Linked DNA regions of Homo sapiens. The protein of the gene in region 2 purifies or fractionates together with the protein of the main gene of each other region. This does not show direct contact. Each region holds a gene or a part of one and is shown on either strand. Other genes may lie near its edges. The genes, in order: XPO6, RANBP17 and SCAI.

Region 1 (3,398 bases), on a different chromosome or scaffold from region 2:
CAATCCATCATGAGACCCCACCTCCCTGTCCTCCAGCGAGACTTCAGGCCACGGAGGGCCAGGTCCTGCTGCACATCGTGGGAAGGAATCTATTCCCTAGCAGGTGGGGGAGGTGGAGCCCACACTTCCCACCCTGGGGGGCAGGGGGAGTGGGTGCCACAGGGGCCACAGGAGTCAGGCAGCCTGGACTCCAGCCTCCCTCCACCACCAGGCCAACCATCAGCAACACCCCCTCCCAGCCTCCAGCCTCCACCAGTACCAGGCCAACCATCAGTGAGACCCCCTCCCAGACTGCAGCCTCCCTCCATCATCTGGCCAACTGTCAGTGAGACCCCCTCCCCTCGCTGAGTAAGAGCAGTCAGGGAGATGCCATTAGAAGGTGGGAGACGCCAGGAGCCAGCCCACTCCAAGCCGCACTGCCCACATTCCCATCAGGATGCACCTTGCTGGGAACCCGGCCTCAAGGAGGCTGTGAGTAGCAAGCAGCTCCCCAGCCAGGGTTTCTAGAACAACAACATAGGCATTTTATTTCTTTTCATTAAGCTTCTTAGTTTCTTAGTATCACAATGGAATGATGAGAAAACAACAAAAACGTGAGTCTTTGCAAATCTCTGACAAAGAGCAGAGATCTCAAGGCAATTGGGGCGGGGGAGGCTTGACAGAAGTGCCAGAGCAGTTCCAACGTCACATCTCTCCTTGGCTGGAATGGTGAGAAGGTGGCACTGTCGTGAGCTGTCCTTGGCAATTCTGCCCCATGAGCCACGTGCGCCTGGTCTGCATGGGCCACCCCGCGGGATTTCCTGGTGCCTCCTAGTACCTGGCCACACACCCCTCCGCCTGCTCCAACGCCCTGGGAGCACCGTCCAGTGCTCAGGTGGACCCAGAAGCCAGCTCTGCTGGGCAGCGGCAAGATGTGGAGGAGCGGCAGAGGCAGGCAGCGTTGCTTGCGGTGGGAGAAGCCAAGGAGTGTGACCAAGGCCCATCTGGGAGACATCTGTGGTGGAAGGTAGGGCTGGCGCAGGTGGCAGCAGCAGAAGTCCGTGTCCCCAGGCAGTAGCAGGCCTAGAGCTTCACAGTGCCAGGGGGCAGGCTGTCGTTGCAGAGTCTGTAGTAGCGCAGGTCGTTGACCAGCCTGTGCACATTCTGGGTGAATGAGGGCAGGTCCTGGAAGGCAGGGGCATAGCTGCAGCCAACAACACACCAGGTCACCCACCCACCAGACCCCAACAGCTACTTCCATCCCAGAGTGTGCACTGAAGATAGGGGAGCACTTTCTAAAACTCAAAACTTCTATTCACTGTTGCACTGCGTGTCACAGAGACTCTGTGCCAGGCGCTGTGGGAGAAAAAGAACAAGAGGAATACGTCCCTAGGGCCTCTCGGGTGCCAGACACTGCTGCAATCAACATACAGACATCAACTCACTGAGTCCTCACCACAAGGCTGCCACCAAGCCCTACCAGAACCACTAGTCTAAGGACAGAAAGACCAAAGCGCTGCACCATGAAGAAGCTGGCCCCAGCTCACACTGAAGAGACCAGCACACTTGCTCCTGAGTCCGGCCCCTCAAACGCAGACATGGCTGTGGTGACAGCCCTCTTCTTCACCATGGCCCCTTGAGGTGACGCGCACACCGAGCAATGTCTGCAGAACCTTTACCCACGGGGCTCCAGGCCGCCCCTGCCCCTCGAGAGCCACCCGAGCAGCAGCAAACACAGTCCCAAGGCCTGTCCCACTGGGCGCAGCGTGGGCCATGGAAGGCCCTGGGCCAGAAGTGAGGCCCTGACCTCCGCCATCATGCACACGGTGAGACCCTGCTTTTTTTTTCAGTGTAGGTCCCGGTGAGGACTCAAACAGGCCCAGCAAGCCCCAGCAGAGCCATGAGCAGGACCAAGTTCATTTTCCTGCCCAACCACTATTCCTCTTCCAGAACTCCATTCAAAGCCTGCCTCTTCCCAAAGTCTGCACAGATGCCTCCTATTTCCTGGCCCCAGCAGCCAGCTCAGCGCCTCTGTCCTGAGCAATCTGCTTCTGGGGAGTGTGTGCAGGCTCTGGGGCCAGAACACCCAGGTCTGCCTCCTGCTTCGCAGCTCTACCACTTCCAAGTTCTGTGAACTGCTCACCTTCTGAGCCCCCACCATCTGTGAAATGGGGGAGTAACAGGACCCACACTTCAGAGGCTTGTTAGAAGGCTTACTCGAGCCAAGACATGTCACATGCTTGGCACTATGTGGTCCACAGAGGGTGCTGTATTGGCCTGTCTACCATGAAAGACTTGGTGAAGGCTGGGACTGGTGCCCCAGTTCCTGGCCCGGGGCTTGAGAAGCAGCTGGCTTCAAACACACAGTGCGTGACTGAATGGAAGGTGGTGATTCTTTTATTTTACCCTCAAAAAACCAACTAAGGGATGTCTTTTAAATCAGTGGCTCCCAAATGCCAAACCAGAATTTCCTGGGTAGAACACAGAAGTCTGTTTCTCCATTTTTAATAAGTACCCCAGGTGCTTCTGATATAACTAGATTTTTTTTTTTGAGACAAAGTCCCACTCTGCCGCCCAGGCTGGAGTGCAGTGGCACAACCTCCGCTCACTGCAACCTCTGCCTCCCGGGTTCAAGAGATTCTTGTGCCTCAGCCTCCCAAGCAGCTGGGATTACAGGCGTGTGCCACCACACCTGACTAATTTTTTTTATTTTTAGTAGAGACAGGGTTTCGCCATGTTGGCCAGGCTGGTCTCAAACCCCCTAACCTCAAGTGATCCGCCCGCCTTGGCCTCCCAAAGTGCTGAGATTACAGGTGTGAGACACCGCGCCTGGCCTATAACTAGATTTTGAAACCACAGCTTTAAATCAAAAAGTTGACTGATATTGATGTCGTTAGAAGCTGATCATTAAGTATTAGGATCTGGCCTCTAGAAAAAGGAAAAAACATATCCAGGGGCTGAAGTGAACTGGAAGAGGCTTAGGAGAGAACAAGTCCCAAGAAAAGGAAGACCCCAAGACAAAGGAGAACAGGATGAGTCTAAGCAAAAGCTTCCCTGCCACACGTGGCAAATGAGGAAAGCAGGCGGCCAGGTTTGCACCAGTGAGAGCAGTGTGTGCATCTGAGCACTACGGTGGAGCCGTGGACAAGCTGCTTCACAGAGGACTCAGGTCAAGAACCCCAAGAGGACCAGGGAGAAAGCGATTTCTTTTCCTAATTTCATCAAGTATAAAACGGTACAAGGAAAAGTTCCCAGAAGTTCCTATCAGGCAAGAGAGAGGCCTGGTCACCTGACACAGGAAGAAGAGAACAGGTGAGCCCCATGGGGAAGGAGGTCCCAGGCACTGTCAGGCTCCAACAAGATGGCCTCATGGACACCAAGAGCCAGCAGCACCCAGCTCCCACCGAGGTGCTGCACGG
Region 2 (3,653 bases):
AGTATTGGTCCTTCTTAACCTCTTAGTACACATGTGATTACCATAATATATATATGTCAGTCAAGCTTCAAACCAGGAAAAACAAGCATGATAATACTTTTGGAATGGATAACTTATTTTAGAAATTAGACCTTATACAATCTTAGGCAAAGATGGGGAAATAGGGCCAAAGTGGGGAGTTGGAGGTTCAGGGGAAAAATATCACTGATCAGCCCTCCTGAAATAATGGCATAGACAAGTTGGAATTTGCAGGGAAATCTAGAAACCAGGCACATTTAGGTGCTAGAGTGGAACTATGAAAGGATTAGGGGTGAGAAGGTAGCTGGTGTTATGGTATAGAAGTCAGTAGAAGGCTGTTGCGTCTGCATAGCTATTGCTTCTGTAAGTGTGCTACCACCTGTTTGGTGGTGGGCTTGGAGATATTGGTCAGCAGGGCTGGTAGTTCTAGACACAAACAGGACAAGGAAGAACAAGGACAAAGTGAAACCGAGCAGCATTTCTACCTGTTACTCTTACCACCTCTAACCACAGCAACCTTTAAAAAGTCATGGCAGCTACTCCACTCCCAGCATCCAAATCTCACACAAATGTCTCTTTTGGCCAATTCTAGCCCACAACCATAAAGGGAAGTGGATTCTAAGAAACTTAATTCTTGTTAGCTAAGTTGACACAGTGTAAGCCACTATATTATACTTCTAAATTTTGTAAATTGAATTTAGTTTCAATTTTAGAAGCAATACTCATTTGACCAGGAAAAAGCAGAGGTAAGAAACATATATTACTTTATATTTTTTTAAAACATTATCAAGTATTGCCTAGTAACATACTTACTAGCACACATTTCAGAAACAGAAATCATTGATTGTAAATGCTAACTGTACTACAGAAGATTTTAGGGTGATCATACAAACATTTCTTTGTCTTCTGATGGTCAACGCAGAATTTAAGTACAATTTTTAAAACAATCATCTCTTGAGATCTTCTGAAGAAGGATCTAAGAAGAAAAAGGAAGTAATATTTACTGTACACTGCACCAAGAACTTCTGTGTGTGTTATTTCATTGAATTCGTATACCAAACCTGTGAGGCTCCTAAAAATGAAGTAACTCAAGATCAAATTCATATAAAAGGTCAAAAATTTGCCGAGAATTTAGGGTAATTTACATCTCAGTCAGGTTATCTTTTTCTCTTGACTTAGTTTTATCCTACTTTTTAAAATTTTTTACTGACAGGATAACACATAGAGTAAAATGAATAGTCTTAAGAGTACAACTTAATGAAATTTTACATATCTATGTATACATCTGTGTAATCACCATGCAGATAAAAATATAGAGCTTTTCCAATATAAGGATATTGATTTTTCCTTGGGCCTTTTGTACTTCCAGGTAAACTGCCATATGTATTTATATTTTTTATTACAATGAATAAAAAAAAATTCTTAAAAATATGCTGGGAGGAAGTGAACATTAGCAGTAAAGTAAAAATGTTAAATAGTGTGTCCCATAACTACTTTGAATGACATCTACTTATGTCACTTTCTGCTTTTATCCTGAAACAGGTAATCAGATCCTGTCCCTTGGGAGCCTCTCAAAAGATCAGATTTATCCAATGAAACTCAAGGGCATCTCCATCTGCTATTCAGCTCTCAAGTCTGCCTTGTGTGGAAATTATGTCAGCTTTGGCGTCTTCAAGTTGTATGGGGACAACCATTTTGACAATGTACTCCAGGCTTTTGTCAAAATGCTGCTGTCAGTGTCCCACAGTGACTTGCTAGTAAGCAATCATGCATCATGGGAGTGTTTGTATGAAATGTGAAGTAACACCACCACAGGCCTGGAAGTGTTATAATGAAGCCCAGGGAGTTAGCCTAGAACATTTTATGTTTTAAGACAGCATACTTGATCTAACTTACAGAATTTGGAAAACTATAGTGGCTTTTTTTTTTTTTTAGCATCTCTGCCTGATTATATAGAAACCAATATGTGCCCAATGTAGTAGCAGTAATTACTTGAGTAACATAGCCAAATCATGCTTAGGCTTAGTTCAGGCTTTCCCACCTGCTCCCACTCAAGGTTACAAGTAAAATCTGGAAGGCCTTTGTTAGTCAACCTGTGTAAGAAATGCTTCTTGATCTCCTAGTGGACTAGTGCATCATCTTCCACCTTTATAAACTAATCTTGGAATGGCTGCATCTCAAGCCAAAGAGAGGACTTCCTTGTAGTAGAATGGAATGATCATTGAAGGATATGTCTGTTAGACAGAAATTACAAAGTAGAAACTTGAGTCAAATCAGCCATATGTTAAAATCACCTCATCAAAGAGTTACTTCACTACAGTTAAAGTCCACCAAGACAACTGGTATGGTTCCAAGAATTTTTCTCTAATTTTTTTATTCTAATAGTCAAACAAACCTTCAACTCAGTAATTCTCCAACTTGAAGGTGCATAAGACTCTCTTAACGTGTGTTAAAAATATACATTTCAGAGCCTACACTAGAGCTTGTCATTTAGCGAGTCTGAAGTGGGGATCAGGAAACTGCGTTTTTAACAAGCACCCCAAGTGATTCCTATTGAGTTGGTCTTAACATCACTTTAAGAAATGCTCCTCTGGTTTCTCTTTTTTTCTTTTTTTTTTTTTAGAGGCAGGGTCTTGCTGTGTTGCCCAGCCTGTTCTTAGACTCCTGGGCTTAAGCAATTCTCCTGCCTCAGCCTCCCAAGTAGCTGGAATTACCAGCATGAACCTCCATGCCCAGCTTCTCTAATTTATCTTACAAGTGTGTTTCTTTGATACTGGTTTGGATTGCATTTGAGATTTTTCAGGTATCTTTCTCATGCACTTATCTTTTGCCTGTAGTGTATGGTAAATATTAAGCCCTTTACCAAATTATTATTTAGTTAGATGGATTAGCATTATATTAATACAACAGACTATGGTGCCAAATCCCATTATAACAGCAAATGTCTTTGTGTTTAAAAAACCAACAAAAAAAAGGTTTCCTAGCGACTGTTAAGCACTGTTCAGTGTTACAGTATTCCAATCCAGAAAAATAATTCACACAGTCTTCTAAATATCGTACTGCAGGGATTTTACTTTTAAGTGCTAACCATATAAGGTAAAGAGATCAAGCGATTCCTATCAGAACCCCTTTAAATGCTGGATTGGGACTCATTATGTCATTTGCTCTATATATTTATTGACCTTGTGTTTAAATAAGTTTACAATTTCCAGTATTATAAATGACAATTTTCACTGGACTGTAACATGTATTTTTCTTCTCTGTGGCTTGACATTTAGTATATCTCTGTGTTGTAGCAATACCGGAAACTGAGCCAGTCTTATTATCCACTCCTGGAATGTCTCACTCAGGACCATATGAGCTTCATCATCAACTTAGAGCCTCCTGTACTCATGTATGTTCTCACATCTATCTCAGAGGGACTCACTACTCTTGGTAAGGATCATAGAGGACATTGTTTCCATAGGAAAAACTTGATTATGGGCTTTTAATGTATGTGATTATTGAGACTATCATCCTACAAAGGGGGAAAAGATATTGTGAACCCAAACTGAAAGATTATAATTATTACTTGCAAGTGGGAAAAATGTATTTCTTCATATTTTGATACATAGTCAGTTATGTTTTAATCAGCT
Region 3 (3,653 bases), on a different chromosome or scaffold from region 2:
TAGGTAAATTATACTCTAAATTTATTTATTTTTTTTGAAACAGAGTCTTGCTTTTGTTGCCCAGGTTGGAGTGCAGTGGGGCTATCTCGGCTCACTGCAACCTCCGCCTCCCAGGTTCAAGCAATTTTCCTGCCTCAGCCTCCCGAGTAGCTGGGATTACAGGTGCCCGCCACCATGCCTGGCTAATTTTTGTATTTTTAGTAGAGACGGGGTTTCACCATGTTGGTCAGGCTGGTCTCAAACTCCTGACCTTGTGATCTGCCTGCCTCAGCCTCCCAAAGTGCTGGGATTACAGGCGTGAGCCACCGCACCTGGCTATTATTTTTAACTTGGTTTTCATTTCTGGCATAGAGACTAATTTGGGTCTAAGTTATTCCCATTCCTGCTTTGATTTGCTGATTTTTCAAACCTGAAGTCCAAAGTTACTGTTTTTGGGGTTTGGGGACTTGGGGAGTATTTTACTTTTTTTTTTTTTTTTTTTTAAGAGACAGAGTCTTGCTTTGTTGCCCAGGTTGGGGTGCAGCGGTACATTCATGGCTCACTGCAGCCTCAAATTCCTGGATTCAGGCAATCTTCTCACCTCAGCCTCCCAAGTAGCTGGGACTACAGGCATGCGCCACCATGCCTGGCTAATTTTCTTTATTTTTTAATTTTTTGTAGAGACATGGTCTCACTTTGTTGAGCAGGCTGGCCTCAAACTCCTGGGCTCAAGTGATCCTCCTGCCTCAACCTCCCAAAGTGCTAGGATTACAGGTGTGAGCCACTGTACCTGGCCTGTTTACTTTTTAAAAATTTTTTTGTTTGTTCTTTCAAACAGTATTTCAGAAAGCTTGGGAAAAGTTACCCTGGAAAGATTTCCTTTGCTAGTGGGTTTTCATTTTCAGGTAAAGACTGCTTTCCTTTTTTTTCAGTATCTTAATAAACTTCATAGCTTTCCTTTAGTAACAGTGTTCATTGAACTACAGCAATAGACTATCTTCGGTTTTCTGACCTCTTGTTTCAATTCCCCTTAAGTCCTGTGCCAGTTATGCTCCTACCAACACAGAGTTTCCTGTCCTCTAATGTTTAAAATAGTATTTACTGTTCTGAGCTTTATCCTCCCCCGTTAAGCATAAAGAACACTGGTCTGAGAACTAGGAGACCTAAGTTCTAGTCCTGGCTTTCCTGGTAACTTAAGCGTTATGCCCTTTGACAACTGTCTTCATGTCTCTGCTTGTTAGCACTCTCATCTGTAAAATGAAGAGGTTGGCCCAGGTCTTCTCCAACTCTGATTCTGTAATTTGGACTCTTGGTTCCAAAAATATTGATTTCCCCACTCCAACCACCAAGAGAACTATTTACCCTGTTTGTAGTGTACACAACCTTTTCTTTTGTAAGTCATATTTACCTAGATTTTGTTCAAGAAAATCTGGGTCCCACTTAGCTGTTTTAGAAACTAGTACAGACAGAGACTCTCCTGAGGAAATTAGAGCTTTTATGATTAGAAACATGCTTGTCTAAAAATGAGGGTCTTAGAAATCACAACATTGACCCTTATGATGTTGCCCCTTAAGCTAATAGTGTAATTCCTTACTGGTAGTTAAAAATCTAAAGTGGACTGAAGTGATCTTGAATCTTCAAAGAGAGGAAAACTGTGCTGGAAAATGTTATTGTTTCATTGATGCCTTCAAAAAAATGCGTATTAAACAAAGACTATACTCCAGATTTTCTTCTGGGCATTGGGGAAGCAAACAAAATAGACTTAAAAATCCTCATGTTCATGAAGCTTACATTCTAGTAGAAGGAGTAAGGCAATAAACATAAGTAATTTATGTTAGAAAATGTTAAGTAGGATGGAAAAGTGTAGATTATGGTAAGGTAAATCTTTTGTTTGTTTTCTTAAGAGAAGAACAATGTTTAAAAGAGTGATCAAGCAGGGCATGGTGGCATGACCCTATTAGTCCCAGCTACCTGGGAGGCCGAGGTGGGAGGGTCACTTGAGCCCAGGAGTTTGTGGCTGCAGTGAGCTGTGATTGCACCACTGCACTCCAGCCTGGATGGCAAAGCAAGACCTCGTCTCTGGAAAAAAAGAAAAGAAAAAGTGATGATCAGGGTAGGCTTCATTAGGAAGGTCACATTTGCATGAACACTTTGCCTTTTCTTTCTTTTTATGAAAGTTTTAAACATAGTTTTTTTGTTTTTTGTTTTTGAGACGGAGTTTCACTCTTGTTACTCAGGCTGCAGTGTGGTGGCAGGATCTCAGCTCACTGCAACCTCCACCTTCCAGTTTCAAGTGATTCTCCTGCCTCAGCCTCCCCAGTAGCTGGGATTACAGGCATGTGCCACCACACCCAGCTAATTTTGTGTTTTGAGATGGGGTTTCACCATGTTGGTCAGGCTGGTCTCGAACTCCTGATTTGAGGTGATCCGTTGGCCTCGGCCTCCCAAAGTGCTGGGATTACAGGCATGAGCCACCACGCCCAGCCTAAACATACAGTTTAATAAATCCTCCTTGTACCTTACCCAGCTTCTGTATTTCTTTAATCAAGGGAGAAGAATTATCTAAAAGGACAGTTGCCCAATGGGCTTGAGCTGATGATAGTGGCAAAGAATTTCATTTTTTAAAAATGCATACCACCTGCCCTTTATAAAAAAATTTAAACCCTAATGTATTTAATTTTATAATTCATAAAAATTTAAATATTGGAACTAAGAACAGAGCAAAGCAAAGGGAAAAAGCACTCCTTTGTTTTCAAATTGCACAAACTGTCCCTGGAGATTCTGATAGTCTCTCATCTCTCTTAACTATCACTGTAAACAACATAGAAAGCATAAGACTGCAAGAAGTCAGTTATACACAAAACAAAATGAAGCACAGTGGAATTTTCTCTTTCTTTATCTGTATATTTCTGAAGTTGGTAAAGCAACTATCTTCTCTATTTTACAGAAGAGAAAGCTGAGACCCAAAAAGCTATTCATAGTGATAGAGCTAGAACTAAAACTCAGATCTCCTCATCTCAGCCCAGTCTTCTCAGTAGCTCAGACTGCTTTCTATAATGAACAAGAAAGAATAATTAGGGATTTGTATTTTGGCACAAAACAGTATCAAATTTTTATTGTAAAAATCCACAAATCTGACATTTTATCTTTTATTCTAGCCAGGATGTATTCTTCATTTGCATGTGTGTGTTTCTCTTAGAAAGTGGTGCTCTCAAACCTTTCAAAGCACAGAATTTATTGTACCCTCTTTATTTTTACCAAATTGAAACGTTTCAGGATTTCAGAAGCAAAGTGCAATCCAATTGTGGCTGGAGTTTTCCTGATAGAGGATCCGGGTGGTTCCCTCCCCTCCAACTTCTGGCTACTGCCCTTTATTTCCTTTGTGCAATAGAATTCCCTGAAACAGATTATGTCGTAATTATACTGATTTAGTCAGGATAATGGGAAAAGCGACAAATCGGATTTATGTATTAGGTATTATGGAGCTTTCTTTAGCACTCTCCTCCAAGTTTAATCTCTGACATGTGTGATATAGTAACTTTCTGTCTCTGAGAAGCAGTTTGGACCCAGCTGAAAAATTTTATTTATGGAGACTTGTAATCAGCCTGATATACAGAGAACACTCTGGACTGGAAATATAGTCAGGTACCAAGGTCTGCTAATTTGGCCATTGC

What was found.
Region 1: the proteins of RANBP17 (region 2) and XPO6 fractionate together in Homo sapiens (co-fractionation; one large-scale study listed by BioGRID). This does not show direct contact.
Region 3: the proteins of RANBP17 (region 2) and SCAI fractionate together in Homo sapiens (co-fractionation; one large-scale study listed by BioGRID). This does not show direct contact.

The regions. Positions count from the first base shown.
Region 1 is NC_000016.10:28,097,476-28,100,873, forward strand, and holds the end of XPO6 (exportin-6), read right to left. Parts: intron 1,165-3,398; coding exon 1,063-1,164; 3' UTR 501-1,062; downstream 1-500. UniProt on the Homo sapiens protein: Mediates the nuclear export of actin and profilin-actin complexes in somatic cells.
Region 2 is NC_000005.10:171,239,368-171,243,020, forward strand, and holds part of RANBP17 (ran-binding protein 17), read left to right. Parts: intron 1-1,560; coding exon 1,561-1,775; intron 1,776-3,314; coding exon 3,315-3,453; intron 3,454-3,653. UniProt on the Homo sapiens protein: May function as a nuclear transport receptor.
Region 3 is NC_000009.12:124,947,889-124,951,541, reverse strand, and holds part of SCAI (protein SCAI), read left to right. Parts: 3' UTR 1-3,653. UniProt on the Homo sapiens protein: Tumor suppressor which functions to suppress MRTFA-induced SRF transcriptional activity. May function in the RHOA-DIAPH1 signal transduction pathway and regulate cell migration through transcriptional regulation of ITGB1.